Linked DNA regions of Homo sapiens. The protein of the gene in region 3 purifies or fractionates together with the protein of the main gene of each other region. This does not show direct contact. Each region holds a gene or a part of one and is shown on either strand. Other genes may lie near its edges. The genes, in order: ATP1A1, RAB4A and NDRG1.

Region 1 (10,447 bases), on a different chromosome or scaffold from region 3:
CCCACAACTACTACAGGCAGCTTCACAGAGAATGTGGGACCCAGAGAGCCTCACATAGCTTTCTTCTCCTACAGGACTTTGTACAATTCATGATCCTTCTGAGACTGCATCTTCACTTGGGCAGCATAGTAAAATCTCAATCATTTCAAACTGCATCAGAATTCCACAGGCTAAGGCTGGGCTTATTTTGGCCTGGAGCTTATTTTTACATCATTAGTAAACAAGCTAAGAACCAATAAGATAAGATAAGCTGAGCTATTTCAGGAAAATAAATGGCTTAAAGGAGTTACTGGAATCTACTGTATCCTAATATGCAAATACGATTATGGAGTCACTGCAGCCCTCAGCTCTCACTGTCCACTAGGTTAGGTGATAACATATAAACTCAAGAGTAGTAAAAGCAGATGAATTAGGTTTTTCACCAATAAAGACTGTCTTCCGTCTCCTCCCCTCCCACTTTGGTCAGATTTTTACTGCATCTTCCCTTTTTAATCAACCTATATGGAGCAGGGGGTCCTATAATACATCAGGATCTACAGGCAACACAATGTAAGTTACACACAGCAAAGTACTGCACAGACCACTCCAGGTGTTCTACAGTGAACAGTCACACAGACCACAAAGGTAATTTGCTACTTTTAACACTCAAATGGCAGTTCTCATGTGCTGTCTACATCCCTCCATTAGTTAACTCTTGAGCATACCTTAAGAATAGGTAGGTTTTCCTGGTTAGCCTGAAACACTGCCCTGTTACAAAGACCTGCAATTCTGGACAGAGCAAGCCAGGTAGCTGAAGTCTTGTCAAAAGAGACACCTGATGGAGGCAAGAAAACACAACAGAACAACAATGCATTAACTTCAAAGGCTGTGTTCTCAGTTCTCCTATTAAAGTCCCATAGAAATCTGCAGTGATACATCTCATTTCCCAATTAATGAAACCAATCACATTTTAGGCATTCTTCAGTCACGTTTGTAGGGCAATTTAAAGTTTCTACTGACATGCAAAAAATCAATATCCCATACCCTTGACTCTTCACTAAATGATAAAAAAAAAAAAAACAAAAAAGAAAGAAAAAGCTGCCATGAGCTTAAAAAAAAAAAAGAAATTTCATGCAATTTCTTAAAAGAAAAAAAACCAAGCGAAGTCAGCAGGTGGCTGAGGTGTGTGGTAACCCTGGCCTTACCACTCTGATTCTCTGTCGTATCAGCTTCATGGATTTGATTGTCAAACCACATGTGGGCCACTGTCATCCGGTTCTGAGTCAGAGTTCCAGTTTTATCAGAGCAGATGGTGGACGTGGACCCCAAGGTCTCCACAGCTTCTAAGTTCTTCACTAAGCAGTTTTTCCTTGCCATGCGTTTGGCAGTAAGTGTCAGACAGACCTAAAAAATATTAGGAAGATTATTACTTCACTCAACCAGGCTGGAATTCTATACAGATTCTTGCTATATCCTAATGTGGAAGAAATTTGTCTAAAATTAAATCTCTCCAACCTTCTTCTGAAGTTTGAAGAAATAATAAGGGGAACCCATACATGAGGCTTCCCCTTCCTTCCAGAAAAGCAATCTATTAAGAAAAATAATAACAGGATTCTACCATATTCTATCCCCCTACTTGATCCCAAGTTCTTCTCCTTTCTCCACTGCACTGTTCAGGACCACGTGATAATTTAAAAGCAAAATGTATGCTTTGGGGTTATCTTACGTATAAACAAATGCTGAGGTTTTCTCACTGTCAAAATTCACCACGTGATGTGGCTCTCAAGAAGAACTATATCAAACATCCAGAATAAAACATAAGTTGGCAATACCTTAGAATAGGATAGCGGAAGAGTGTAACATTCGTGCAAGCTGATCTGAGTCAGGGTGACCATCACCTGCCTCTTACCGTGACAGTGGCCAGCAAACCTTCCGGCACATTGGCTACGATGATACCGATGAGGAAGATGACAGCCTCAAGCCAGGTGTACTCAAGGATGAGAGAAAGGATGAAGAAAGACACACCCAGGAACACAGCCACACCCGTGATGATGTGGATAAAATGTTCAATTTCTGCAGCAATGGGGGTCTGGCCTCCTTCCAGCCCAGAAGCAAGTGTGGCAATTCTTCCCATCACAGTGCGATCCCCAGTGTAGACAACAATACCACGTGCGGTGCCTTAAAAAGAAGGGGAGGGAGAACTGTACCTAATTGTATCTAACCTGAAGGAAGCCACGGATTTTACACAATTACATAGGATGACTAAAAAAACAAAAAGAGTTGATAAAAGCACTTTTTAAGGGCCAGCTCTTTGGCTGTACATGCTGTTTGGCAAAGGGACTTCTCTCCAGTAGCAGGACAGCAGCTCCAACACCCATGCCAGACTGGTGTTGTTGACAGAAGAGGCAGGGTGGAGGTGGAGGGAAGGGAAACTGCCACAAGGTTTCCTGCCAGCTAGGAAAACACCTCTGCTCTGTGCTTGACACAAGTTCTCAGAAATGGAGCCAATAAAACAAGAGATTGTGCCTATGGTTTTGATTTTGTTAATGCCCAAGAGAAATACCACGCCATGCTCAAAGTGCCCAAAAATGGCCTACCTTCAACACAATTGGTTGAAAAGAAGGCAATGTTCCTCGTCTCCAGGGGGTTTTCATTTGTGAAATCTGGAGACCTAGTCTGGGGTTCTGATTCACCAGTGAGCGAGGAGTTATCCACCTATATGTGAGGAAAAGAAGAAAAATGTCATGTGAATACACCAGCCTTATCATGGGCTACTGTACCCCTCAAATCAAGCTGCCCGAACAGCAGAGCTAGCTATGAGGTTTGTTAAAATAAAAGAGCTACCTTGCAGCCATTTGCAGATATGATTCTGAGGTCAGCAGGAATTCGGTCTCCTCCTTTTACTTCCACCAGATCCCCAACCACAACTTCCTCCGCATTTATGCTCATTTTCTCACCATTTCGAATCACAAGGGCTTGCTTTGGAAAAGAAACAATTTACACCGTTAGTATACCAACAAAGAGAAGGTAGTGTCCAAAACAAGAAAATAAAAATAGTCATAATCCTAATTACCTGAATACAAAACAAAGATATTATTCACTTTTTTATTTACACAAGTTACAAAAGCTTGCTCGCCAGTTTAAGAGATATTGCTGTTACATGGTGTGCCTGTATTCAGAGTTTACATTCAAAAGAAAGGCTACCACTTTTTGGATAGAAGGAAAATAGGTTGGTTTTGGGTGGGGTAGAAGACATCCATCTCTCTGATGAGTCATGTAATACTTGGAAAACCTTAACTTCACACTAATTCACAGGCTGACATGCTTGGGGCTGTCAAGTCATCCACTGGGGAAGGACAAAGCGTCTGGTACCTGAGGGACCATGTTTTTGAAGGATTCCATGATCTTTGAACTTTTAGCTTCTTGATAGTAGGAGAAGCAACCAGTTATGATTACAACGGCTGATAGCACCACACCCAGGTACAGCTGGAAGGGAAAAGACAAGTTAGGGCCCGTGGCTCTACACAATAATTAGGGACATTCAATTAATTTTTTGACTGAATAAAAAACAGATTTTTAATAGAGAAACCAAGATTTCAGAAATATAGAACTCATGTTTTCTTATTTATCCTTCTAAAGACCACACAGGAAGGGTCAGAAATGGAGTCAGGCACACCAACACTTGATCACTAACTGGACGTTTGGAAAGGTTCTAGATGCATCAGTTTCTCCTGCTTTATAAAACAAAGATTGTTTTTCAACCAACTTGTGGATTTTGAAGAATGGCCACCAAGCATTTCTGGACAGGTGGATGTGCCAACATGAATCGCTGTGCTCTGCCATCCAGTGGGTGGCGGCCGGGGCCTGAGCAGAGCTGCCTGCTCACAGCAGCACATGCAGGTGGGCATCCCACTTGTAAGAGCATCTACAACGTGGGTGGTAGAGAGAGGAAATGGAAACGAAGGAAGAATGGATGAGCCTTGAAGGCAACAGCTGTTCATAACCATTAAGTAATGAGTTCATAACCATTAAGTAATGAGTGGTAATTGAGAAGAAGTGGGAGACAAAGACGGAGAAGATATCTGATGTGTACTACAAATCCATATGCTGAATTACAGAACTCACATTATCGTTTTGAGGTTCCTCTTCTGTAGCAGCTTGGATGCTATAAGCCAAGAAACAAAGAATCGCTCCAATCCACAGTAACATTGAGAACCCCCCAAAGAGCTGCCGACAAAACTTGATCCATTCAGGAGTAGTGGGAGGGGGAGTGAGGGCGTTGGGACCATCTCGCGCCAGGATCTCAGCTGCACGAGCAGATGTTAATCCCTGAGAAGCAGTGGAATATAAATAAGGCAAACTGTACCAGCACTTACAAGGCAATATACCTACCTGGTAGCTGGACGGTTGCAATAAGGATTTAAGGAAGAAACAAAATGTCCCAAGCTAGAGAGCCAAGGTAAAACCTAGCAAATTCCTCCATGAATAATTCTGCTGATGAGCCAGTCCCCACAGGGTTCAGGCAAACAATAGGCCCAAGGAACTCATAACACCCAGATTAAAACTCTTTAAATTGATCCATCAATAAATTTGAATTCAGCCTGGTTTCTTCTAAGTTTTAGATCAAGGGATTAATGCCAAATTGCATTTCTGCCAAAAAGGTATCTATTTTCACAAATCCATTCAGTTTTGCAAATTAAGAGCTTTGGGTTTTCTGTGTATTGATTTTGTCGGGAGGGGAAAAAAAACCCCTCTACAAACATCAAAGGAGAAAAAAACTTCCTGTAGAAATCCTTTGGGTTAACAGCCAAGTTTTAAATATACAGCTTGATTCTTTGCTTGTCTGGCAGGGAAGGGCTCACCTCCATGTGCATTTTAGCCACCTCCCAATAAACCTGTTGACTGAAAAGTACTCACTGGAAAAAACCACTCTACTAAAGCCTGCTATTTTTCTAATGGGCCTTAAACCCAAGATTCACTGACAGCAGGCAATTACATATAAGCTCTCATTAAGAGAGGAAAATATGATCACTTTTATACTCTCAAAATAACAAGTCAAAAAAAAAATAAAATATTTTTGTCTAAAGTATCTATTTATCTGTGTTTTGTGCTCATGTTACCAAACATTTGAGTGCTATCTACATGCCAGGAACTGAATTCAGTGCTTTAATTAACTTGTTTAATTCTCATGACAATCCTTTTTTAGGCATTATTAACCTCATTTTATAAGTAAAGAAATAGACCCGCAGCATTTGAGTAATGGGCATAGGTCGGAGAGAGCACACTTCATTAAGACTCTAATAAAAACTTAAGTGAGATGTGAAGTGGCTAGAGACTGCCTGGCACAAAGTAAGCACAGAGTCACTGTTGGCATGTTGTTCTGAGCTGACTCGAGGCCTCCTCTTGGAGCTTAAAGTGCTTGTGTCAAGAAAAACGCTCTCAACCTTGTTCTTCTCTCCTTTTTTTTTTTTTTTTTTTTTTTTTTTTTTTGAGATGGAGTTTCACTCTTGTTGTCCAGGCTGGAGTGCAATGGCACAACCTTGGCTCACTGCAACCTCCACCTCCCAGGTTTAAGCAGTTCTCCTGCCTCAGCCTCCCGAGTAGCTGGGATTACAGGCATGCACCACCATGCCAGGCTAATTTTGTATTTTTAGTAGAGACGGGGTTTCTCCATGTTGGTCAGGCTGGTGTCGAACTCCTGACCTCAGGTGATCCACCAGTCTCAGCCTCCCAAAGTGCTGAGATTACAGGCATGAGCCACCGCACCCGGCCTCTTCTCTACTCTTACACCCCAACAATCAACACAGAAGATGACTTCTGTGAGCAAAGGTGTGGCGGTTTCTCCCCACCACCAAGGTTTCCTCCAATTCAATTCCAACACTATCTACCTGGAAAATCAGAAAAGTGGAACAAGATTAGAGTCCTGCCTTGCGACAGGTGAAAAGGAGGGCAGGAGAGAGATCCTGTTTCTTGAAGCCTGCCACTGAGGTCTAACACACCCAACATTATAACAAACGACTGTAATAAGGGCTATGGGAGTTATGAACCAGGAACTGTGGACAAAAACCAATATATATCAGAATACCACAGTACCCATGTCTCTTGATGCCTTACTGAAAAAATGCTACATATTGGCTTGCTATTCAAGTTATTCCCAGACATTTCAGTGATTATCTGGAAATAAGACATCCCTAGACTATTTACTTTTATAACATTTGTTACACATTTAATATCAAAATCCTCTACATAACAAGGATACATAACGCCTATTTTATGAAAAGGTTTCTTTAATTTTTGTACAAAACAATTTCCAACTAAATGATAGAATAACTAAACAAATGATAGTATAACCATAACACACTGCAATGGGCTAGCTGGGAAAAGTGCAAAAATGGGAATTGTTGAAGATTCAACTAGGTGAAAGATTCAACTCTATTTAACAAATGTAGAAAAATAAAGGGAAAATTTATCATCAAAAGGTCAAGGCATAAGCATGGCTTTGAAGCCAACTGCAAGTCCTGGTGTTCCCACTTACTGGCTCTCAACTGCTATAAAATAGGGAAAAGAAAATAACATCTACTTTCAAAAAGTTTCAGGGAAAAGAAACGGTAGCATATAAATGCCCAAATTCTGTGCATGTCACATGGTAGATACGCAGATGGTGTCTGTCATTTTCTTACTAGAGCCCCTGAGGTTAGACCTGTATGTAATACAGGGGAAAATATAATACGGAAAACTAGGATTTTGTACAACAGCTTTCAAACTAGAACATACCCGGCTCAAGTCTGTTCCATATTTACGATGAAGTTCATCAAGGCTAAGTTTATGATCATCCTAAGGGAAAACAGAAACAAAGAAAATAGTTAAACAGTGTAGTATAAAAAAATGACAGAAAAAATAGCATTATTCATTACTATCATTAAGCTTATTAAACAAAGTGCAGATGTTTTCTTCAGTGCATAAGTTGGTACAATTTTCACCATCGCTTTGTGGCTTTGCAACCACACAGTTATCATTGACAGCTCTTCACTGGAGAATGGCTAAAGCTGAGTGACCGTGGCCCATTACTATTTGCCATAACACTTCAGAGAAACCCAGCAGCTCTCAGGGATCTAGTAAAACCTTATCTGCCTTCTCTGATGACCAGGTCGATTCTAGACAGGTTAAGTCTATGGAAGCTTCCATCGCCTGGAGAGGCTGAATTTCCCAATGTTTGATATAATACAGAGAAAAGCAAAGACTCATGGTATCAACCTAAGTTCCTTCTGTTATCTCTGGTTATGCCAGAGTGACTGAATAACTTTTCCTACCCTCTAACAGCTTTTAAAAAGTATATGTTCAACATTAACCTCTACGACTAGATGAGATCTGTACAGCTGCTATGATCTCTTTTAATATATAGCAGTTCTTTGAAGAATACAGTGAGGCCTGGGGGATTAAAAATCATGGATTTTTAATAAGGATGGAATACAATATTCCTCCTAGTACTTACCATAGAAACTTCTTTCTTCAGTTCATCCATGTCCCTGTCTTTTTTGCCCTTTTTGCCCTTTTTATCACCTTGTTCTGAAACAGCTGCAGGCTCATACTTATCACGTCCAACCTGTAGGAGAATGTGGGAAAAGTGAGGCCATGAATTATGAACCTCATCTGAAACTGAAAATTCTGGAGCAGGGGATTTTGGTAGTTTTTAAGGTAGTCATAATTTGGAATAGTCATTAAGATAATAGTCAGGAAAATGTATACCCATATATTGCCTACTACATAAGCAAAGCAATCTACTATTAATACATTGGCTCAAGATACATTCTCTCCATCCAAGAGCATTAAGAACAATACTGAAGCTACCGGTAGGCTTCAGAATGGCCCTGCCAGTGCCACTTCCTTTTGGGGTTAATGAGGAGATTTTTGCTATCAAAATCCCTATTCTGCAGCCTTCCATCTTCCCTACTGAAAGAATGAAACTAACTTTACATTATTAACTTAGAGTGCAATATTGTGCTTATGAGTCCGCATTCTCAATCAGACAGCCTTGAGTTAAAATCCTGGGCTTTACCACTTACCAGCAGTGTATCCTTAGGCAAGTTACTAACTTCTACATTTCAATTTCCTCTTCCACAGCGTGGAGATAAAGAATAGTGCCAACCTCATTTCATGTTTTTAAGGATTAAATGATACAATACATCTAAATGCTAGTACTTTTATACTGTTTATATTCTTTGCTTTGCAAAGACATTATTACATATCAAATTTAAATATCTTTAGTGCTCACATAAGAACACTGACCTTTACCAGCTTCCCATATTAAAAAGTCAGCCTAAGACTCCTTAAAATTCTTTGCATAAGAGATAAAAAAGGGAGCGCCCAGCCCATTCTGTAGCCTGAAAATAAAACCTCCAAAATGAAAGTCTCTGGAAATGTTTTGACATAAGCAGGATGTAGGAAAAGCGTGTGCATTATCACATAATTCACAGGATCCACCTACGCCTCTTGAAAACTGGAACAATTTTTAAAGAAAATGTTGATTCTATAGTTTAAATTTAGATTGTTCCACTCCCCCACCCCTGTTGAAAAATCCTTGAGCTTATCTACACAAAGCCTGAACTTGGTGCTCCAAAGCTTAGCGGAGCAGAAGAGCCCCTTGTTCCAGACACCTCCCCCTGAAGCAGCCTCCCACAACTACAACTTAAGGCCAAAAAGTAGACATTAGCAATTTTCTTAAAATGCATGACATATGGTGCTATTACTATTATTTTGTGGTTCTCCTTTACTCATTTCTAACTTTCCTAAGTGCATTACCAGCTACTAAAGCAATAATTAGGAACTCGTGTCCAGATTATAATTTCACTGTGCTGAAATGAAAAAAGAAAATCAAAACGTATTATGTGTGTTTCAGTCATAACTAATAGTTGCAAATAAAATACATTGTTCACTTAAATTTAAAAATATCCTCTTAAGACTCCAAGGAGAAATCCTTCTCCAAATTCACTGGAGTGGGCCACATGTAGAGACACATTATTTACCTTTTTAACTTCTGTGGTCACGTGTGCAGCACTACTTGACTAATAACTTCTTCCAACTGGGTGGGTTCTTTAGTTTCTATCTTATCTATTAATGAAGCAGGTCTAAAGATAGTCAACATTCTTGACATTCTCTCCATTATGGAGCAACCACATTTGTTGGTGCCTCTTTCGGTACAGCTCTTGGTGCCAGAGTTTAAATGAAAAATAGTAACACATACAAGTGGACAAATAAAACAAAAAGGAAAAGGCAGGTCATCTACCAGAAAGGAACCACAGCTAAAGTGGTATATCTTTAGCTTTAATTAAAGGTATATCATACCTTTAATGAGAAAGCACAACACTTAAAAAACATTTTAAAGACATTGACTAAGGATCTCTAAAAGATTTATGTGACCACTTTGTATTAATTTTCTTTTTTTTGGGGATGGAGTCTCACTCTGTCGCCCAGGCTGGAGTGCAGTGGCGCAATCTAAGCTCACTGCAACCTCCGCCCAAGGGTTCAAGCAATTCCCTGCTTCAGCCTCCTGAGTAGCTGGGATTATAGGCGCTCGCCACCACGCCTGGCTAATTTTTGTATTTTTAGTAGAGACGGGGTTTCACCATCTTGGCCAGGCTGGTCTTGAACTCCTTACCTCATGATCCACCCACCTCGGCCTCCCAAAGTGCTGGGATTACAGGCGTGAGCCACCGTGCCCAGCCTGTATTGATTTTTAAAATACAGCTCACGGATTCTCTCTGAGCAAGTTGAATATCATTGAAATATATTTCAATAAATGAAATAGTTATAACCCCTCAGCTTCATAATCTGCATGCTTTGCTTATTCTCAGACTTCCAATATCTTCCACTCCAGAAGAGGAGAGAGGATTACTAGAGCAGCTAGGCTTTGAACACGTTCCAAAGTTTTACCCCCACTTACAAAATAAATGTCTTGCCCATAGCTTCACCACTATCAGTGCTAAAGTTAGTTGGGAATTTAGATTCCCTAATAACTCTCCTTTTTCTTTATCCATTCATGCTAGGTAAGGCAAAGTTTTAAATGAGGCTATTTGTGGGTGAGACACATGGCAAGTATTAACAAGTAAAACTGCTTTTTCTTCAAAATTTTAATTTTTTCACTAGGCAATGTGTGTCTAGAAGAACCAGGCAGCTTATACAATTTAGTTCTTCTCCACAAGTAAAATAATAACTTAATATTAGCTTATTCTTGTGGGAACCAAATATCCTTAAATCCCTATCAGTCTCAATTACCTCAGTCTCAAAGCTGCAAAATTCAGAGTCAGGGAGTGCACACTGCGTGAGATGAACAGTGGTAGAATCAGGTAGGACAATGTTTCCTTATTATTTTTTAAGGCATTAGGGAAAAACAAAGGTCATGGGAAGGGTGAATGATAAATACGGCATTTCCTCAATCAACTACAGTAATCTTCCCACTCATCTGGGCATT
Region 2 (10,447 bases), on a different chromosome or scaffold from region 3:
CAAAAGTAAATACAGCTTAAAGCCTAAAAGAGAATTCGTGAATATCTTGTCTTTTAACACTTGCCTGTGCCTACTACATGATGTCGACTATAAATAAAACGTCCACTGTGGTAAATGGGAAAAAAGAAGAAGCTTTAAAAAGTTAAAGGGAGACATTTGTCAATTTTATAAATAGGCCTCCTGTTTTAGCAAAAGGCACATTCATTTAGACCTCAATCAATCCAGGAAGGGCTCCTCACTGACATAAGGAATCAGGATATCTCACCCTTCCCATCAACCACCACCTGCCCTTCCTTTCTTTCTGAACAAGAGCATAAGAATTTCCTATAGAGTATAAATTCTTTCAGTTAGAACATCCAACTTTAACTTATGGGTTCTTCTCCTTCTCTTTTTTTTTTTTCTGAGACAGTTCTCACTTTATCGCCCAGGCTGGAGTGCAGTGGTATGATCTTGGCTTACTGCAACCTCCGCCTCCCAGGCTCAAGCAATTCTCCTAAGTTTCATGAGTAGCTGGGACTACAGGTGCACGCCACCACGCCTGGCTAATTTTTTGTATTTTGTAGAGATGATGTTTCACCATGATGCCTAGGCTGGTCTCGAACTCCTGAACTAAAGCAACTGGCCCACCTCAGCCTCCCAAAGTGCTGGAATTAGAGCCACTGCACCCGGCTGGGATCCCCTCTTTTTCATACTGCAGCTTCCCAAAGCTTTAACAGGCCTCTGCACTTGAGCTTGCCAGGAACTCAGGGCAGGGAGGTGTCCAAACCCACCTGTGTGCTCTCCTAACAACCACACTCCTGAGCGTTCGGGGCCTGTGCGCGCCGCGGTGACCTCAGCTGTCTCAAGGCAGCATCTCCGTACTGAATACCTGAGCCCATTCTTTCTGGGTCCAGCTCACCTAAGGACCAAGCAAGTCTTCTTTTAAAAAAGGCTTTTATGTTTCTTTGATTCCAAAAATAGATTAAAAAAAAAAAAAGCAAAGTACAGAACACTGTGTATATATCCCACCATTCTGAATAAAGGGAAAAAACTATATATATGTTTGCTTGCACCGGCACAAAACATCTCTAGCAGGATACATAAGGAACGGCTGATTCGGAGGAGTTCTAGATGGCTGAGGACAGGAGGGGGTGGTAACAGGGGGACTTTTCATTGCATACTCTTTTATACTTCTTGAATTTCAAATTATGTGAATACATTATTTATATAAAATAATTTAAAATTAAATTACAAAGATATAATTTTTCACTTATTAGATGGGCCAAAAGTCCAAGTATGATGATACTACATGCTGTGGACATGGCTTTAGTGAAATAAGCCCATCACTAGGAGAAAATGTGACAGCCTCTACACCAAGATCCCAAATGCTTATGTTCTCTGACCCAGCAATTCCACTTCTGGGCATTTGTCTGACACACAGACTCATGCACATGTAAAAAAAAAAAAAAAATATATATATATATATATATATATATATATATATATATATATATATATATATAATTATTTACTGTAACATTACTTATAATAGCAAAATACTGGCAACAACCCAAATGTCCAAAGTAGACTGGCTCATGAATTATGGTAACACATAGGTTGAGCGGTCCTTATCCAAATATAGGTTGAGCAGTCCTTATCCAAAATACTTGAAACCAGAAGTATTTTGGATTTTTTCAGATTTTGAAATATTTCCATTATACTTACCAGTTCAGCATCCCTAATCTGAAAATCTGAAATTTGAAGTGCTCCAATGAGCATTTCCTTTCAGTGGCAATGTTGGCAATTAAAAAGTTTCAGATTTTGGAACATTTTGGATTAGGGATACTCAACCCATATTACACATTACACACACACATTATGTATGACATTATGTTATATATATGTACCTTATGTATTATATGTATATACGGAAACTATAAGCTGATTTGTAATGATTTGTAGGTTATACAATAGTAAGTAAAAAAGCAAGGCGTGGTAGTCTATCATATGATACATTTTATATAAAAAAAGGGAAGAAAACAATGGTTTCTGAATGTATTACCCATTAAAAAAATAAAAAGTACTGCTGAAGAATCCTAATTTATACTCTTATATTTTTTTCACCTAGAGGTACTTATGATTTTGATGATCTCAGAAAAAAACACATCTTGGAAGACTGCATATGAGTTGTTCTATCTGATGCATTCAGGGATACAATATTAAAATAGCAAGGTCATGTAAATACAACCTCATGCTGAGCTTAATAATACTCAACAGTAAGCCAACTGTAAGGATTTATGTAACAGTGTCTTGGTTTTTGTACCAAGCTTAGTAATTTTTTTTTCTTTCTGATAAAAAAAAATACAAAAAGATGACATGTCCACTTCTGTTGAAACCCAGCCCTTCTACCTGGGCCCGACTCTCCTCCCTCCTACTTCACCTAGCACCCTCCTTCTTCCCTGCCCTCTCCTTGCCCATTCTTCTCTCCTTCCCCCTCAGCATTTAAACATGCTGGAATTTCTCCCATCACCCACAACCCCAGCTTTAAATTAACCCTTTGCACCCTACAGTGCCAGCCTGTGCTTCCTCAGGAGAGGAGTGGACACTCTGCTTGCTCACCTCCTACTTCTTCCTAACGGACGGCCAGCCATCTTCTACCTTCATAATTCTGCTGAAATTGTTCTTGATCAAAATGATCACTGACTTTCTATTCCCCATCCCAATGTGTGTTTTTCAGCTCAGTCTTAGCTTATGAGGCTTCCCTCTGTTACTATTACATTACATAATGAACACTCCTTTGATTTGCTTATAATTAGGGCTTAAGTGACACCCACATTCCCTTGATTTTCTTCACACATTTCCGACCATTTCCTTTTTCATCTTTTTTGTAGATTCCTCTTCCTCTGCTCATCCTCCAACTCCAGGGTTCTGTTGATCACTGCTCTCCTTAAACACTGTTCTCCGGACGATCACATTGCTTCCACAGTTTTAGCTGTTCCTATATATTGATGGTTCCCAAACTTATACTGCCAGCCAGGAACTCTTCCCCAAGCTTACTAGATAACTCCATGTTCATGTCTCAGCGTTACCGCAAAGGCCGCACATTTGCAACAGAGCCATCTTTACTCCCTCACATTCCCTGCTTCTCCTCTGGCTCCACCCCATCTCTGTCTAGAGACACCAGTGTGACAGCTGCGAGTCATCCTTGGTTCCTCCTCCCCTGCTGGCCCTTCCTCCTCACCTTGTCCCACCTAAGAGTCAGTTGTCCTGTCCCACTATTGGGCATATGAGTCATAAGATGCTACTGCCTAAATATATCTTAGATCCATCTCTCTCTCCATCTCTGCTTCCATATCCTTGTTAAAGCATTAATCAGTCATCTCTTACTAGGATTACTCAAAAATGCCTTATAATTGGTATCCTGGCCTCCAGGCCTGTCCTCCCTTCAGTTTGTTTTCAACATAACCTCCTACATACATGACTTATCTCAAGTCACAACCCAATCACATCACCCACCTGCTGACAACCCACCACCTACAGCAGTGGTTCTCAATCTTGGATGAACATTAGAACAGCATGAGTAAACATTTAAAAACACTGGTGCCTCGACCATACTTCAGCCCAATTAGTTCAGCGTCTCCAGAGGCAGAGCCTGGGATTAGAACTTTTAATGCATCTCAGTGTCTCTAGTGCTCATCCAGGGTTGACAATTGGTAATCTACAAGATAAAGTTCTAGATCCTTGATGAGGACTGGCTGGCTCCTGCCTTTCTTCAACCTTTTCTCCTGCTATTCCCTCTTCCTCACTCCCTTTGCTGGCTCACTCTTCCTTATATTCTGAAAGACTGAGCTCATCTAAGACCTCCCCTGAAAGCCCTCCCTGACACCTCCTCTATCCTCTGGCTGGGGCAGGTCCCCTTCTTCACGTTACCCTGAGCCTGTGCATCTCTCAGCTACTACATCAGCCTTGTGATATTATAATTATCCTCTGACTGTCTCCCATGAAAGACAGTTTCTTGGGGGGCAAGGGGTGTGATTTATTCATTTTTGTATCCCAGCATCTGACAAATAGGCACTCAGATGTTTGAATGAATCAATTAAAAGGTGATGCCCATATATAGTTACTTTAGTAAATGACAACTACACAGTATTTCGTCAGCTGCCTACATTAGGATTATTTTAAATTATTTTAATAAGCAAATACAAAAATGAGGCATTTTATAATTGAGGCATGCTCAGTAAGCTTCAGAAATAAAATTACTCTGGACTCCATAGTTCCATGATGCCCGATCTGCAACAATCAACACTATACCATGTACCTATAACTCCCTTACACATGACCACTGGCCCAACAGAATTAGCGTGCTGTTGACAGAGTGGACAAAGGCCTATTCTTCCTCCGTTTAGTGAAGGACCAAAGAAAGACTATGGTTCTAAATGCAAACACTCCCTGAAACCTTGACTACCTTTCCACAGCTGAGCTGGTGTGCCCATCCACTTTCATCACCATGGAAACCATCCTGATAAGGATGGGGCTTTCATCCTGATAAGAACAGGACCTTTGAACCCATATGTGATGATTTTAGGTTGGCAGGTAGAGAGAGAACATTCTTTACTAAATCACCCTGAAACTATTAATTAAAAGGTGATCTACTGAGCTACAGTGTAAAATATGCAGAAGAAAAGTTGCTTAATGGAAAGGCTTTTACCTGATTCGATTTTGTTAAGTATTTTTCTTGCACACTGTACAAAAGCCTCTTCTACATTCTCCCCTGTGAGCGCACTTGTTTCCAAAAACATCAGCTCTAAAATGGACATCAAACAAAATAAAGTCATGTTTAGAAGATGATCATAATTTTCACTTACAAAAGCCTGTGTAGCATTCTCTTAGAAAAGCAGACGAAATATAATTTATGACCTAAAACCATATATTTCTGTAAATATAAAATCAATATATGTCATTATGTGTTTTTTAAATGTTAAAAGAATTTTAGCCTTTTCTGAAAAGTAACTGCTATCTTGTGCTAGCACTTAACCTGGTGAAGGGGCTGAGCAAGCAACCAGGCTTCCCCAGCCAAATGACAGCCCATCAGAAAGGAGCTGGCTTGCCAAAATGGCCCTGCCATTGATTTCAGGGAAAGTTGCAATGTCCTTCTTCAAACAATCTGAGTGTCACCACAAATATGACCTACAAGTGTTTACACTTTTTAGGGGACTATATTGCAATCTGTCATACAGCCCATGAAGAGACAGTATAGGAATTAATACTCTTTCTACCCACCAGAGTGGCTGTTCATCTCAGCAGAAAGGCCTGTTCTGCTTGCTCTCTCAGCAAACCATGGCCTCTCTAGCCTCTTGTATCCTCACTTGTAAAAATGAGTTTAGATGACATCTAAATTCCTTTTCATCTTTGTTAACATTCTAAACTTCTGATTTCTAAACAGCTTTTTAAAAACTGTCATGATGGCATATGGATTTCTCTCATGTTTATTTTCTTAGCAAGAAACTAGTCAAGTTACAATATAATTTGGAATCTTAGAGTCCAAATATTGATATTAGGATTCTAGTTTTTGGTTCTAAAAATTAAAGTTATTTAAAATGTCTGAAGTTTTAAAAAATCATTCTCTTATCCATTAATTAAGCAACCATTAATTTTATGTGGCATTTTCATGTATTCTATATGGAAATTCAAAAAAGTTTCAAAGTTGTCTATAACCAAATGACTTAAAATGAAGCCAAAAAGCCAAGTATTTCTTCTTCCGCTTCCCTTTCTATTTGGGTTAATATTTCACCAAATTTCCTTCAAAATACATTAAAAAATAATGACATCATTTGGTTAGAGTCTTTAAATATTATTAATTTCACTTTAGCCCAAGATCTCTAATATTCAAAGACCCTAGACTGAAAAGTCATTACATAATGTTACTACATTTGCTTTTATCATTATAGTAACTTCTGCAGGCAGAATGCAATATACTAAAAATATGCTTAATAGGTCTAATTTATAGAAAAAAACAATTGGAAATTCCACATTTCCTAAATCTAGTTTAATCTTGAAATTCCAATATATGTTTTAAATTCAAAGAAATGCTATTATCCTCAAATATGCGATTTGAAAAATAGTAAGAAGTAAAAGGTCACTTGCCATTTTCTTGAGCAAATCTGGAGGCTTCTAAGAAGGTAACTTCACGATCTGCATCCAGGTCCTTCTTGTTTCCACAAAGGATGATCACAATGTTCTGGCTCGCTAGCATTCGGGCATCTGTTAACCAATTAGTAAGCGCATTGTAGGTTTCTCGGCTGCGTAATATAAGATTGTGAAAATAATACATGTATTTTATAAAACTAGCAACTCTTTCCAGTCATTCTCACTACTCATACCGCTTTTCAACATTTCAGGGTAATGGCACCAACACCTTTAAGATAACTCAGACAACGTGAATGCACCAAGTATATACCATACCCACAGTTTGTTCCATTTTGTTTCTGGTAAAATGAGACAGCAAGTGAGATATTTTGTTATTTTTCGTTTGCCCAGTCATGGGGCAAAAGGAAAGAGATGTTCCTTCATTCAATTGACAAATATCTATTGAGCTCTTAGCATGCGCAAGGCACTAGACTCTGGTAGGCAAGATTTCATAGCTAATTGCTGCCACTTAATGAATCCTTGCAATGTGCCAGCACTTTGTTTTACAGGACTTTATCACATTGATTCTTTATAAAGATTCCATGACACAGACTGCCATTATTCCCCTTTTCTCTGAGAAATCCAAGGCCCAGAGAGATTAATTACGTTGCCCTAGGTCATACAGCAGCCAGTGGCAAAGTCAGGACTTGACCAGCTCTGTCTGACTCCAGGACCAACTCTCAGACTTACTATTTTTGGCCCTCATGTGTCTAAGGATTGAGTTCTTCTCATGGCACTTTGCTAGCCTGATTGATGACTTCACACTTTAGCAGGCTGAGCCTTTCACTGCCTGGGCAAGTGCAGGAAGGGCTGGGCCAGAAACTGCCTTCCTCCTCTCAGAACGCCTGGCTCCCGGGACACAGATTGGAAGAGGGAAGCGGCTGCTGAGTGACATCCTCTCACTGGACAGGTTCCTACCCAGAAAGGGCCCCCAGATGATGCCATTTAGATGACACATTTCTAAGACAGTGCTACTGAGATCAGCACTGCTGAATGTGATTTCCTCATGGATAGGAATGTTCTATAATCTGTCCTGATATGGTAGTCACCAGCCACATGTAGCTACTGAGGACCTGAAATGTGGCCAGTGCAATCGAGGAACAGAATTTTTTATTTCAGTTAAATTGCCATATGTCACAAACAGCTACTAACTGCTTCACATTAACTAATTTAAACCTCCCAATAACCTCCTGAGGATCATGTGATTATTACTATCTCCATCTTACAGACAAGGAAACTAAGGCCCAGGCAGCTGAAGCACCTGGCCTGAGAGGGTCAATCAGCTAGTGACTGCAACTGGGATTTGAACCCAGCAATCTCAGCCCAGAGTCTGTGTCCTCACCCTCTCTCAACTCACTTCTAATAACTTTCCATACATAAAGCTTTGTGAACCTTAAGGAAAGTGTCCAAGCATCATGTCAAGAAATGTAATGTAATAGCATGGATTGCTTTATCCACCTAAAACCTTACAAACACATTTCTCTGCAGGGGAAAGCAGTGGTAGGGGCTCGTTCAAAGACCTCTGAGACCCCAGATGGAAGGGCTAAGGGGCTTCCTGGATGCCAGCCACACCACCGTCCCTGGACACACAAAGCACACACTGCACGGAGGGCACCTCGCCAAGACCAGCCTTTGGGCTGCAGGGCACTGAGCACCCTCCTTCACCAGGGGGAGCTGGCATTACCTGGTGATATCATAGACGAGGAGAGCCCCGGCCGCGCCTCGGTAATAACTTCTCGTCACGGACCTGGAAGAATTATACTGGTTTTACTTTCAACCAATTGAGACCCTTTACTGTATCCCACTTTCCCATGAAAAAACACCCATGCTTGCTTTGTAAACCACAACACAGGGACAGACACTGGTTTAAAAGAGAAATGATTCAAAGATATTTGAACATACATGTGAGGGGTTATTCTGCCTGAAATCACATCACTGTGGCAAGTAGGAGATTCCTTCACAGCGGATGCAGCTCTCTGATGGATGTCTCCTTTGAGAACTCCTAGCAGGGTGAGCTGTCTGCGGAAGCCAGCACCACCCCCTAGATGGACACTAAGGGGCTCAGCAATCCACTCACTTCTCTGCGAGCTCCTCATCTACCCCACTCCCTGGCACAATTTTCTCCATCTCTTCCAGTTCTCGCCACCTCTCGGCGCGGTGGAATCCATAGTCACCACAGGAATCCATAGTCACCACGGCCCTACACCCACCTGCATCCCTGCCCTATTACTACGGGAAAACTGAGTGTCCCAGTATGTCATATCCACTCTCACATTCAAGAAGGCGTCTTTTGGTCATACATGTTTTCCCCTACATTGTCAATCTCACCCTCTTTGTGAGATTTTTCCCATTAGTGGCCGGACACCTATAATCCCAGCACTTTAGGAGGCCCAGGAGGGAGGACTGCTTGAGGCCAGGAGTTTGAGACCAGCCTGGGTAAGAGAGAGAGACCCTGTCTCTACAAAAAATTAGCCAGGTATGGCAGTACACACCTGTAATCCCAGCTACTCAGGAGGCTGAGACAGAAGGACTGTTTGATCCCAGGAATTTGAGGTGACGGTGAGCGATCATGCCACTGCACTCCAGCCCAGGCAACAGAAAGAAAAAAAAAAAAAAGCCAGGAGTTCAGGATTTTTCCTATTAGCAAAATAAAAATAAATTGGCTCTGGTACCGCCCATCTTAAAACACAAAACAGAAATATGCTGCACCATCTTTTCAGTTACTGTCCCACTGTCTGCTCTTCTCCACATCCAACTGTCTTTTTTGAGACAGAGTTTCGCTCGTTACCCAGGCTAGAGTGCAATGGCGCGATCTCAGCTCTCTGCAACCTCTGCCTCCCAGGTTCAAGCAATTCTCCTGCCTCAGCCTCCTGAGTAGCTGCACCCGCCACCACGCCTGGCTAATTTTTGTATTTTTAGTACAGACGGGGTTTCCCCATGTTAGCCAGGCTGGTCTCGAACTCTTGACCTCGGATGATCCACCCGCCTCGGCCTCCCAAAGTGCTGGGATTACAGGCGTGAGCCACCACGCGTGGCCCCACATCCAACTTTCTGAAAGAGCTGTCTTTACCTGCAGCTTCCTCTTCTTCACCGCCAACCTAGTGTCCATCTCTGCTACTCCCCAAAAGCCTGTCAAGGTCCCCACCCTCTCTGCAACCGAAGCTGGAGTGGGCATTTCTGTCCTCACTCACTCGCGCAGCCTCTGCGCCCTGCACTCTGCTAGTCTTCCTCCCGCTCACCAGCCACTTCTCTGGCTCTGGTCATTCTTCTGAATCTGCCCTGCTGGGATTGCGATTCCCCAGAGCTGGGTCCTGGGCTCTCTTAACATTCGACTCAAATTTTGTCTCCAGCTCAGATCCAAGTGCTGCCTCCATATCTCCATGAGACTGCCTGATAAACATGTCAAACTTAACATCTGCACAGCAGGACTCTTTTTGGTCCCACCCTCCAGGCCCGTCCTGGCCTAGGAAGAGGCATCACCACGCACCCTGTTTCTAAAGCAAATCAGCTCCACATTCATCCTCAATTCCTGTGCACCTCCACATTCACTCCGCCAGCCTAGTGCAGTCTCCTACACTACACAAATCCTGTGTCTGCCCACGCTGCTGTCCCTGCTGCCATGTGTGGCCCACAGTCCATTCTTCAGAGCAGCCCAACTCATCAAGGCCCAGGACAGGACATCTCCGTCACTGTACCTGTCCCTTTGGCCCCATTCTCTTCCCTGCTCCCAGCCCCTGCCACTCCCGTCTGGGCTCGTCACACCGCTGGCTTTCCTTGTCCCTTGGGTCTCATTAACTCTATCTCCTCAGCAACGTTCCCCAAGCATCCCCATCCAGTGGACCCCCTCTATCTCAGCGTGCTGTCTCCTGGGTGGCACCATCCCACTTGGTGGGATGCTCTTTCTGTCTCTGTCTCTGTGTTGGCTGCCTGCCTCCCCTCCATGGGGCAGGGCTCTGCTGTCTCACTCACCAGAGGATCCCAGTGCCTAGCACAGGGCCTGGACCACTGCTAGCTAGACATTCCCAGAACTTAACTGTGGCCTAATTAAATTAAAAAATATATATTTGGTCTTCGTCCCAGGTTCCTGGCACAGAGGCCCAAACCCCTGTGATTTCCTTAGTGATAAAGGTGTCTTTTGTAAGCCAAGGAGATAACTGTGGGAAGAGTAGCAGGCTAGAGAGCCTTGGGATCGGGGCTGTGGCCGTGGGAGCCCTCACCGAGTGAGGAGAGTGCTGGAACTTATAGCCTCACCTCAGCCCTCTGGGGAGGAAAGAGGAGCTGG
Region 3 (10,447 bases):
ATCTCCCAGGCCCTTTAAGGGTGAGCCCCCTGTATTCTGAAGCCGAGACAGCAGAGCAGGGTAGGGGATCCCTGGCTGGGCTCCTCCTGGCCCCGGTGTCCACCACCTACACAGGAGGGACCTTGGAAGTAGAATTCTGCTGCTTCCTCGCCTCACACCAGCCCTGGGGAACAGGGAAGAAACAGAGGGCCCTGCAATTAAGTGGCTTCTCCAGTGTCACACCTTAGGAGCTGCTGGCTCCAAATTGAGCCATGGCCATTTCAGAGGAGCTTCATGTCTTTGCCGCACTTCTGCCCTGCGGCTTCTCAGCTCAGTGGCTCTGTTGATGTGGAGCCACACCATACGGGCTCTTTCTGGCTCTTCCCAGGGCGTCCGCATACACTGCTTCCCTGCCCACACGCTTTACTCATCAGGTTCCCATGACCCCTTCAGCGTCACTTCTTCCAAGAAGCCCTCCCTGATCATCTGAGCACGGCAGGTCTCTGTTTCGATAGGCTTTGTTATGAGTAACACCCCCTGTTTCTGTTGACTCGAGGGCTGGCTCCTGTCCTGGTTTGCATCTGCTTTGCTCACAGACCCCTGCCATTGCCTCACCAAGAGCCCGGCATGTGTGAGGATCAATCACTGCTTTGCGGATGGAACTCATTCATGCCTGTTTTAATTCCTTCTCCCTGACATTGGAATTGTGAAATGCCTTCTAGTCAGTTTCTGCAACACCCTAGACCCAAAACCAGACAAACACAGTGAGGACATGTTTCTGGCTAACCATCTACTGCTCTTGTGAGGCCAAGTGTCTCATCTCTCAGCCTCAGTGATGTTTATAATCTTGCTATGAGGGGAAATCCTAGCAGCCTCCTAGAGTTATTGTGAAAATTGAATGAGCTAATTCCCAGAATGTGTCCATGGGACCTGGAGCGTAGGAAGCAATTGATAGAGTGTGCTGCAGGGGTCTTGGAAGGAGGATGCGAAGGGACTAGACTTGGGGGTGGGGGGGTCTGGGTGCATGGGGCAGGCTGCTGCATGGTCCCCACCCTTCAAGCGTGTCCCTGTTTGGATTACCCGTTTCTGTCCGGGCGCTCACTAATGGCTTCTCTGTGTCATCCCCAGGTACATGTACCCCTCCATGGATCAGCTGGCTGAAATGCTTCCTGGAGTCCTTCAACAGTTTGGGTAAGAGCGAAGGATCAGCTCCTTCTCTGTCTGCAGAGAAGCCTGGTTTCTAGCATCTTCCTGCCCCTTGGCTTTGATCTGGACTGACCACTAAAATTAAGGTTGCAATTTAGAGATGAGGCAAGAAATTAGCTCGTCACTCTGTGAACACTGTTCTTCACACAGTCTCTGAGCTCTAGTCTGTCTCCTCTAACTTCAGTTTTCCTCTTGCGTGAATGTTATATTGCATGATGGCAGCTGCCCCACCCATTTGCTCTTGCCTCCTGTTCTTCCATTCCCTTCTCTTTCCCATGGAATGTTCTGGAATGGAGTTGCCTGAGTCCTTAGCTTTTCTCTCCACACCCTCATTTTTCCAGTGTTCCTCTCTGTCTTGAGCTCTTCAAAGAATGATAACTTCATGGTTCTTGCTCAATTTGTTTTCATTCCAAGTTTTAGAATCCAAAATAAAGCTTAAGAGTGGGAAGAAATGATGCCGTAACGGGCCTTCCCGTAAATGTCAGACGGTCTCTCAGAGCCTGGGTGGCGGCCAGGAGGGAAGTGAGGAGAAGGGGCGCGGCTCTCCAAGGTCGAGGTCTCTGTCCAGTCCTAAAGCATGGTGACCTCAGAGCTGTGCAGGCAGTTACGGCAGCATGCTCCCGCATTGCCTAGCCAGGCGGTCACCCTCAGGAAGTTCTAAGTGGGTCCTTGGAGGCTCCCGTCACTCTGTCCTTGTGTGACATGCATTTGTATTTTTGCTTCCAGGCTGAAAAGCATTATTGGCATGGGAACAGGAGCAGGCGCCTACATCCTAACTCGATTTGCTGTGAGTGCTTTGGCATTTTTTGAAAATCGCATTTTAAATAACATTTTAAGATGAAGGAAGACATTGGAAAAGCATCAAAAACCCAAAAGGGAAAAAGAAATGACCCGTATTCTCCACAGTTGTGTGTGTGTGTGTGTGTGGTGCATGGGTACTCGTATATATATATACTCACAGCCTTTTCTCTTCCTCCACTCAAGGATGATACTGGACACATTCCTTTGTCATGGGCTTTGTCCGCTTAGCCATCTAGTGAGGACGCTCCTCACTCACTGAGTACTCTGCTATGACACTGCTTTGTAACAGCTGTACAGGTTTTTGTAGTCAGGGCACTCCTGGGTCATAACTGATTCTAAACTAGAATCAGACACGGGAAGTTTTCATGACAGTTGTCATTGTTATTTCTCTGGGCTCAGGTCAAGAGCCACTGTTCCTTTGTATCCTCACCGAGCAATTGTGTAAGAATGCAACAATACTCATTTTGTACATCCATTGGTATTTTGACTACCTATTATTTGCTGGGCTTTGCTGGAGGTTGGGAATACTGACATGATTCTACAACATCCATCTTACAAAAAAAAGAAAGGAATGCTGACATGAATACAAAATGGTCTGGCCATATAGGCTCTCAGCAAATTAAAAATGGTCTCAACTGTACCCCAGGTGTACATATCTATATCTGTATGTATCTGCATCACATAATGACATTTTGGTCAATGACAGACTGCACATTTGACAGTGGTTCCATAAGATTATAATGGTTCATTTTTACTGTACCATTTTTATGTTTAGATTTGCTTAGATACATCAATACTTAGCATTGTGTTGCAATTCCCTGCAGTATTGGGTAGCGTCATATGCTGTACAGGTTTGTACAGCAAACCTAGGAGCAAAGGGCTGTTCTATACAGCCTTGGTGAGTTGTAGACTATACTGTCTAGGTGTGTGTAAGTATACTCTGAGATCTTCACACAATGACAAAATCTCCTAATGATGAATTTTCTCAGAAAGTATCCCTGTTATTCAGCGATGCATAACTCTGTCTCTCTCTCTGTGTGTGTGTGTGTGTGTGTGTGTGTGTGTGTGTATGCATGTGTTTATCCTGGAAGTAAGTAATACAGTTGTTACTGCCACAACTAGAGAGCATTTGTGCTGTGCGCCTTGTTTGATTGATGAGGTCGATGGTGTGTTACACCCATTTGATAGCTGGAGAAGCTGAGCCTCCGTGGGTTGAAGTGACTTGCCCAAGGCAGGCCTGCAAAGCAGCGGGCTTCCTACTTCTCCTGCACTTCCTCTTTCTCCTTCCCACTCTCTCTAGGACCCGATACCGTGTCTGCTGTGCTGGAACCTCAGTTTTGCATGGGGTGGGGCCGGGGAGCAGCAGCCTGCTCTGCTGCCCACACTGCCTTTTTCTGGGTACTTCTCTCAAGCTTTGGTTTGCCTTGGAAAGTTCCTAGTGTTTCAGATTGCTGGGATGTCTGTCTCACTTTGTGTCTTGAATTGCAGCTAAACAACCCTGAGATGGTGGAGGGCCTTGTCCTTATCAACGTGAACCCTTGTGCGGAAGGCTGGATGGACTGGGCCGCCTCCAAGGTGAGGTGGGGGCCTGTCAGGCCGGCGGGATCCCTGCAAGAAGAGGGACAGGTGCACACAGCCTCTGCCTGGGGGATCCCTGGAGCTACGAGCTCTCTCTTTACCCACTCCTCCACTACCCTCTACTGCCCACTCCAGTTCCCTCTGCTTTACTTAGAACAGTACACATGACCTCAGCCGTTTGCCATTCAGAAGACTTAAATACCACCAAGCTGTCTAAGCCAGGGAAAGCACTGGGACACAGGTCCCTGAGGCAGCTTGGAGAAGCATTGCTTGGATTAATGAGTATTAGCTGGGTACATAACTTGTGCCAGGCTTTGGTCAAGATGCTGAGCATCTTGAAGAACAAGACTTCTTGAGATGAACAAGACAAAAGCCTCTAGGAATGAATCTTAGGAATCCATTCACATATTATTAAAGAAAAATAAATATGTATTTAGTACGGACTGTGCCACAGAATTTTACGATAATAATTAGCTAACGTAGATTGAGAGTTTACCATGTGCTAGTTTCATTCTACGTTGCTGTGTGTGCATGATCTCAGTTAATCTTCATAGTAACTCTAGGAGGTGAGAATTTTTATCACCGTTTCAGAGGTAAGGACTCGGTGTGGCTAAGGGGATTGTCCAGGGTCACATAAAGCTAGGCAGTAGAACGGGGACTGGATGCAGCTTGCTTTGACTTTGTGGTTCGTGGACCTGACCACCCGTGCCCCTGGGGCTCCTGTCCAGGGTGGGAGACAGGCAGGCCTGGCAAGCAGGGTAGGCTGCCTGGAGGAGAAGGGACCTGTGCTGTCTTGGGAAGCTCTGTCCTGGCTGGTGTCCTAAGGTTCCTTGTTTATCTTTTAAAAATTATCATTGTGGTGTTTTTGTTTTTGTTTTTTTCCCTGTAAAGGCCTCAGTGTTGGCCAAGGAGAGGGGGAGGTCATTCCAGTTGAAATAGGACAGAGTCTTTCAAGCTGAGGTGATCGCAGCTTCTCATTCTGCAAGTGCATTTTTGCCCAATTTTGGGTGGCTGCCAGGGACCGATGGTTTGAAGGGGCCCTGCCTCTTGCCCCATCCCCTGCCCTGTACCAGCCACTGTGATTTTGCATTTGTTCTTTGAACATTCCTCCAGAATGCAGGAGCCCTTCCGTCCAGCCTGTATGACGTTCTGGAGTGGAACACACTCCCTGTTTTTTATTTGATTTTCCAGCAAAGGAAGTGACATTCCAGTCAACCCGCTGGGCTTCATGATAGCTGTCCTGAGTGAGACTCGAAGGTCTGGGGATGTCGACCACTGGCTAATGTGAAGCCTGAGGATTGTCTTTAATAGCTGTACTATTCCCTTCAGTACAGCTTTAATAGCTGTACTATTCCCTTCTTTTTCAACTCCAGCCTTTCGATTACCAGGCATTGGTATTAGATACTGTGATGTGTGCAGTTACTTCTTGCAGTCCTTCCCTTGACCTTGTGGCCTTGAAGTTCCTGGCACTCCCAGTTCCAGATTAGAAGTCTGAGACCCAGAGGTATGCAGACTGCCCAGTGCCACACAGCTAGGCTGTGGCAGGCAAGGGCCAGCCAAAGACCCTTAGGTCTAGAGCTTCTCTCCTACTCATTTTTGCCTAATGCTTAGGTCAGCACACATTTATGGAGCTTCTGCTGTATACTAGGACTTATAGAGCTCCTGCTGCAAACCTAGTCACTGGGGAGAGGTAGGAAAAGAAGATTGTCAGTGTCTTTGGTAATATCAGTATACTTAGAAAGGGGAAACTGGCTTGGAGATGAGAGAGGAGGGATAGTTGGGAGCCAAGCATATCTTGGGGTATAGACTGGGGAGCTCAGTGTGTTTTTAGAAGAGGTGAATGGATGGCCCTCTTTGCTGAGGACTTGGTGAATGTTTGGAGCAGGGTAAGCTAGCAGTAGCTGGGTCTTTATTCAGCACTTATTTGCTGTGCATCTTGTGCATGGGCCTCTGAAAATAAGGAACTGGATATAGTCCCAGGCCCTGCATTTGGGGGATCAGGTCCAGGAGGGAACTGGAGACAGGAACTGAGTTTCTATCAAGGGGGATGTCCTTGAGGCCTGCATGTAGGGGGGAGTCCAGCAATGCCACCCTGCACCCAGGGAAGTGGGGTTTTGCTGACCTTGTTAACTACTGTTAGCTCCTGGTTTCTCATCCACCCACTTTACTCCTTTCCAGATCTCAGGATGGACCCAAGCTCTGCCGGACATGGTGGTGTCCCACCTTTTTGGGAAGGTGAGTTGCGTGGTCTGGCAAATCTGTTGTTCCTGCTGAGCAAGGCATTGTGTGGTGCTCAGCACAGGGCCCCATGTGGGGGTGGAGAGAACAAGACACAATCAACTGGGGGCCACCGAGCTGGTGCTCATGAGATAATGTGACATTATTCATTCATAAGCAACAAGTCATTCATTCTCTCTCTTTTTTATGTGTCTTTTAAAAACAGCTGATTGAAGTACAATTAACTGCACATATTTAAAGTGTACAATTGACATGCATATACATTTGTAAAACCATCCCTGTAATCAGGAGAATAACGTCTCCATCACTCCAAGAGTTTCCTTGTGCCCCTTGATAGTCCTCCTCTCCCTCCTCCTCAGGCAACTTCTGATCAGCATTGGCCTCTATAGATTGCTTTGCAATTCCTAGAATTTTATATAAATGGCATTATATAGTAGGTACTCTTTTTTTTTTTTTTTTGGTCTGGCTTCTTTCCCTCAGCATAACCATTTTGAGATTTGTCCATGTTAATGAGTGGATCAATAGTTTATTCCTAGTCGGGGTGCAGTGCTCATTCCTATAATCCCAGCACTTTGGGAGGCCATGGCAGGAGGATTGCTTGAGCCCAGGAGTTCAAGACCAGCCTGGGCAACATAGTGACACCTTGTCTCTACAGAAAAATTAAAAATTGGCCAGGCATGGTGGTTCTGCATGCCTATAGTCCTAGCTACTTGGGAGGCTGAGGCAGGAGGATTGCTTGAGCCCAGGAGTTTGAGGCTACAGTGAGCAGTGAGCTGGGATAGCCCACTGTATTCCGCCTAGGTGACAGAGAGACCCTGTCTCTTAAAAAAAAGTTTATTCCTTTTTAGTGCTGAGAAGTATTCCATTTTATGTATGTGCAACAGTTTGTTTTTCCATTCACCTGTTGATAAGACCTTTGAGTTGTTCCCAGTTCTGGGCTGTTATAAATCTGGTCAGTAGCAAACATGTCCGTGGAGTTAGCTGTGTGCTGGGCTGGGCTCAGTCCTAAGAGCTTCACAAGTGTTAACTATAGGAATAGGATTCCACCCAGGTGCTCTGTGACCTGTGTGATAAATTCTGTTCTCATTCCCAGTTTATGGAAGAGGAAACAGACCAGAGAGGTTGAGTGACTTGCATAGGGTCTCAACCAGGGAGAGGTGGGGCCGGTATTAGAACCTATGAATCTGGCTTCATTCTGGTCACCACAGCAGGATGGCGGCTGCCTGTGCTGCTGCCTGGCTCTGAGATGAGCTGCTCTTCTGCAGAGTTACCCCACTAAAGGGGATTGAGCCAAGCCCCTCACAGCATGCTAGAAGTGAGCAGTCATCTTATCAGCCCAGCCTGCCTGGCCCCAGACACTGGTTTTGTGTCTCTAGCTGGGGCCAGCTACCCTCGGGAAGGGTATGCCATGGGCTTGGTTGCAAGCCCAGGGTCTGGAAAACCCCTTGGTTGCCTGAAATTGCAGTGACCTGCTTTGCTTACATACCACTGTCTGCTTCTGAGCTAACATGTGTGACCATCTGACACTCCCATGAGTCCTGGGGACACAGCCTCCACTCTGGAGCTGGCGAGTACACCAGGGGAACAGACGCCCCACTCTGGAGTTGACGAGTGTACCAGGGGAATAGAGGCCCCACTCTGGAGTTGACGAGTGTACGAGGGCAATAGAGGCCCCACTCTGGAGTTGGCGAGTGTACGAGGGGAATAGAGTCCCCACTCTGGAGTTGGCGAGTGTACGAGGGGAATAGAGCCTCCACTCTGGAGCTGGTGAGTGTACGAGGGAAACAGAGGCCCCACTCTGGAGCTGGCGAGTGTACGAGGGGAATAGAGGCCCCACTCTGGAGTTGGCAAGTGTACCAGGGGAACAGAGGCCCCACTCTGGAGTTGGCGAGTGTACGAGGGAAACAGAGGCCCCACTCCGGAGTTGGCGAGTGTACGAGGGAAACAGAGGCCCCACTCCGGAGTTGGCGAGTGTACCAGGGGAACAGAGACCCCACTCTGGAGTTGGCGAGTGTACCAGGGGAACAGAGGCTCCACTCTGGAGTTGGCGAGTACAACTGCTAGGTTTGCCTGTTGTGTTGGTTTCCTGTGGCTTCTGTAACAAATTACCACAAACAGGATGGCTTAGAACAGCGAAAGTGGGATGAGCAGGGTGGCTCACACCTATAATCCCAGCACTTTGGGAGGCTTAGGCGAGTGGATCACCTGAGGTCAGGAGTTCGAGACGAGCCTGGCCAACATGGTGAAACCCCGTCTCTACTGAAAATACAAAATTAACCGGATGTGGTGGCACGCGCCTGTAATCCCAGCTACTCGGGAGGCTGAGACAGGAGAATCACTTGAACCTGGGAGGCAGAGGCTGCAGTGAGCCGAGATCGCGCCATGCACTGCAGCCTGGGTGAGACAGAGGGAGACTCTGTCTCAAAAACAGAGAAAAAGGAAAACAAAAGTGTATTCTCTCACAGCTCTGAGTCTAGAACTCCGATGTCAAGCGCTGGCAGGGCCGCCCCTCCGCCACAGGCTCCAGGGGAAATTCGTCCTTGCTTCTTACTGCTCCAGGTCGCTGTCGGCATTCCTTGGCTAGTGGCTGCTCACACCACTCTCTGCCTCTGTCTTCACATGGTCTTCTCCTCTGTGTCTGTTTTATTTCTCCCTCTCCTTCCTCTTTTAAGGATACTTTCCATTGGATTTCATCCCGGCTCATGTAATCCAGGATTATCTCATCTCAAGATCCTTAATTAATTACACCTGCAAAAACCCTTTTTCCCAGCAAGTTTGCATTCCCAAGTTCAAGAGATTTGACATGGACATATCTTTTGAGGGCCACAGTTTAGCCCACTAGAGTCCTCTTTCCCCTTTTACGATTCATTCCACAGCGTGTGACACATTTTCCCTGTCCTGAGTGTGTAATCTGAAACTGATAGGAATTGGGAAAAATTCACAGCCACTGTCTCTGTTTCACTGGAGGAGGGATGTCAGACATAGCGTTGAGCATCTGATCTGATTATACCCCAAGTTATTTGGAGACTGGTTGGTCCGGCCATGGTGTCTGAGGGTACCCCCAGATCGCTATAGTTGGTTTTGATCTGAAATCCCAGCGTGATTCCTGACTATTTTTTCCAGAGTTTGCTCTTAGTAGCCAGTTGACCTCCTTGCTGCCTAAATGATCCTGGACTGTTTGATGCAGCTCAAGCTTGACACCGGCTTTCTTTGACCCCCAACTCCAACTTCTCATCTGGTTGCCACTGGTCATATCAGACCCTTGTGTGAAACCTACAGTGTCTGCCCTCGTACAAATGAGAAACAGAGCAAACAAGTTGTTTGTCGCAAATAACATTCAAAAAGCACCCAGAGACGGGGAGGCTGAGGCCGACTTCCCCAAGGCTCTGGTTGGCCGTGGTGGGAGTTGCAATTGCCCTTCTTTTCAGTAACTTCCTGTGGCATGAGTTGATTTTGCTTTTCAAGCATGAAAAACTTCTTTTCAGCTCTTCCCATTGGAAAACAATTACTAACATTTGCCTCCAATTTTTACTGTTAGTAGAGGTGAGAACACAACCTCCATTAAGTCCTACAACCTAGTGAAGTAGGCAACATTCTCTCTCTTCCCTTTTTTTTTTTTTTTTTTTTAAGAGATCTGAGGCTCAGAGAGGTTGAAAGATTTGCCTACGAAAGGGACAGTGATGAAGCTAAGCTCTAGATCCAGGATGTCTGACTTCAAATTGAAACTCCCAAAGTAATGAGTTTGGAAGGGTGGGGTGTGGCCTTTCCAGGATGGGGGTCTTTTCTGCTCCCAGCGGATAGTGAAACCCCTGTCTGCACCTGGTTGGGCGTGTTGCTTTCCCAAAGGTTTTTTTTTTAGGTCCGTCGCTGTCTTGTGGATTAGGCATTATTATCTTTACTTTGTCTCCAAATAACCTGGAGAATGGAGAGAGTAGTGACCAGCTCAGGGCCACAGTGCGATGAGGACCATCTTCTCACCTCTCTAAATGCAGGAAGAAATGCAGAGTAACGTGGAAGTGGTCCACACCTACCGCCAGCACATTGTGAATGACATGAACCCCGGCAACCTGCACCTGTTCATCAATGCCTACAACAGGTATTGGGATGTAGTTCAGCCACATCATTGCTATTTATGAGGTGTCTTCTGTAGATCCGAAATGTGGGACAGATGAGAGGGAGAGTATAAAATGAGCGGAAGAGGCAGGCTCTGAGTTTGAGCAAATAGATTAATAGGACAGGTGTCCCCAGGAAGGACACCTGGCCTGTAAGCTGGTTCCTGGCATTCAGCTCGCCTTGCAGGGATCTGAACAAACACTCCAGACCACTGGGGGTGCAGACGTGAGAGGGACGCAGTCGCACACTCAGAGGGTTGAGAGTAAATATGTGTGCCCGCTGCTGACCTTCACGAAAGGCCAAATGTAAGAAGAGCTAAGTGAGAGAGCAGCAAAGCACTCCTGGAGGCCGGGGATAATCCAGGCAGGCTTCTGGGAGTTTGTCATTCCAAGGATAAGGAGGACCTGAACATGGCCTTTGCCTAAGGCGTGGCCCTCTCAACCAGCACTAGGTGCTTATCTGGAGCTCAGCTAGGGGAGGAGACAGCTCAGGGCCATTGGTGTCAGCCAGAGACTCTGTAATCTTCCAGGGA

What was found.
Region 1: the proteins of NDRG1 (region 3) and ATP1A1 purify together in Homo sapiens (affinity purification with mass spectrometry; 2 studies listed by BioGRID and IntAct, with this or other methods). This does not show direct contact.
Region 2: the proteins of NDRG1 (region 3) and RAB4A purify together in Homo sapiens (affinity purification with western blotting; 2 studies listed by BioGRID and IntAct, with this or other methods). This does not show direct contact.

The regions. Positions count from the first base shown.
Region 1 is NC_000001.11:116,381,149-116,391,595, reverse strand, and holds part of ATP1A1 (sodium/potassium-transporting ATPase subunit alpha-1), read right to left. Parts: intron 8,227-10,447; exon of another isoform or gene 8,043-8,226; intron 7,583-8,042; coding exon 7,472-7,582; intron 6,814-7,471; coding exon 6,754-6,813; intron 4,309-6,753; coding exon 4,105-4,308; intron 3,466-4,104; coding exon 3,352-3,465; intron 2,959-3,351; coding exon 2,824-2,958; intron 2,695-2,823; coding exon 2,577-2,694; intron 2,158-2,576; coding exon 1,889-2,157; intron 1,384-1,888; coding exon 1,185-1,383; intron 815-1,184; coding exon 705-814; intron 1-704. UniProt on the Homo sapiens protein: This is the catalytic component of the active enzyme, which catalyzes the hydrolysis of ATP coupled with the exchange of sodium and potassium ions across the plasma membrane.
Region 2 is NC_000001.11:229,293,313-229,303,759, reverse strand, and holds part of RAB4A (ras-related protein Rab-4A), read right to left. Parts: intron 7,913-10,447; coding exon 7,850-7,912; intron 6,279-7,849; coding exon 6,124-6,278; intron 4,784-6,123; coding exon 4,688-4,783; intron 899-4,687; coding exon 783-898; 3' UTR 771-782; intron 1-770. UniProt on the Homo sapiens protein: The small GTPases Rab are key regulators of intracellular membrane trafficking, from the formation of transport vesicles to their fusion with membranes.
Region 3 is NC_000008.11:133,249,891-133,260,337, reverse strand, and holds part of NDRG1 (protein NDRG1), read left to right. Parts: intron 1-1,107; coding exon 1,108-1,170; intron 1,171-1,911; coding exon 1,912-1,972; intron 1,973-3,474; coding exon 3,475-3,561; coding exon of another isoform or gene 3,562-3,612; intron 3,613-5,742; coding exon 5,743-5,799; intron 5,800-9,794; coding exon 9,795-9,898; intron 9,899-10,447. UniProt on the Homo sapiens protein: Stress-responsive protein involved in hormone responses, cell growth, and differentiation. Acts as a tumor suppressor in many cell types. Necessary but not sufficient for p53/TP53-mediated caspase activation and apoptosis.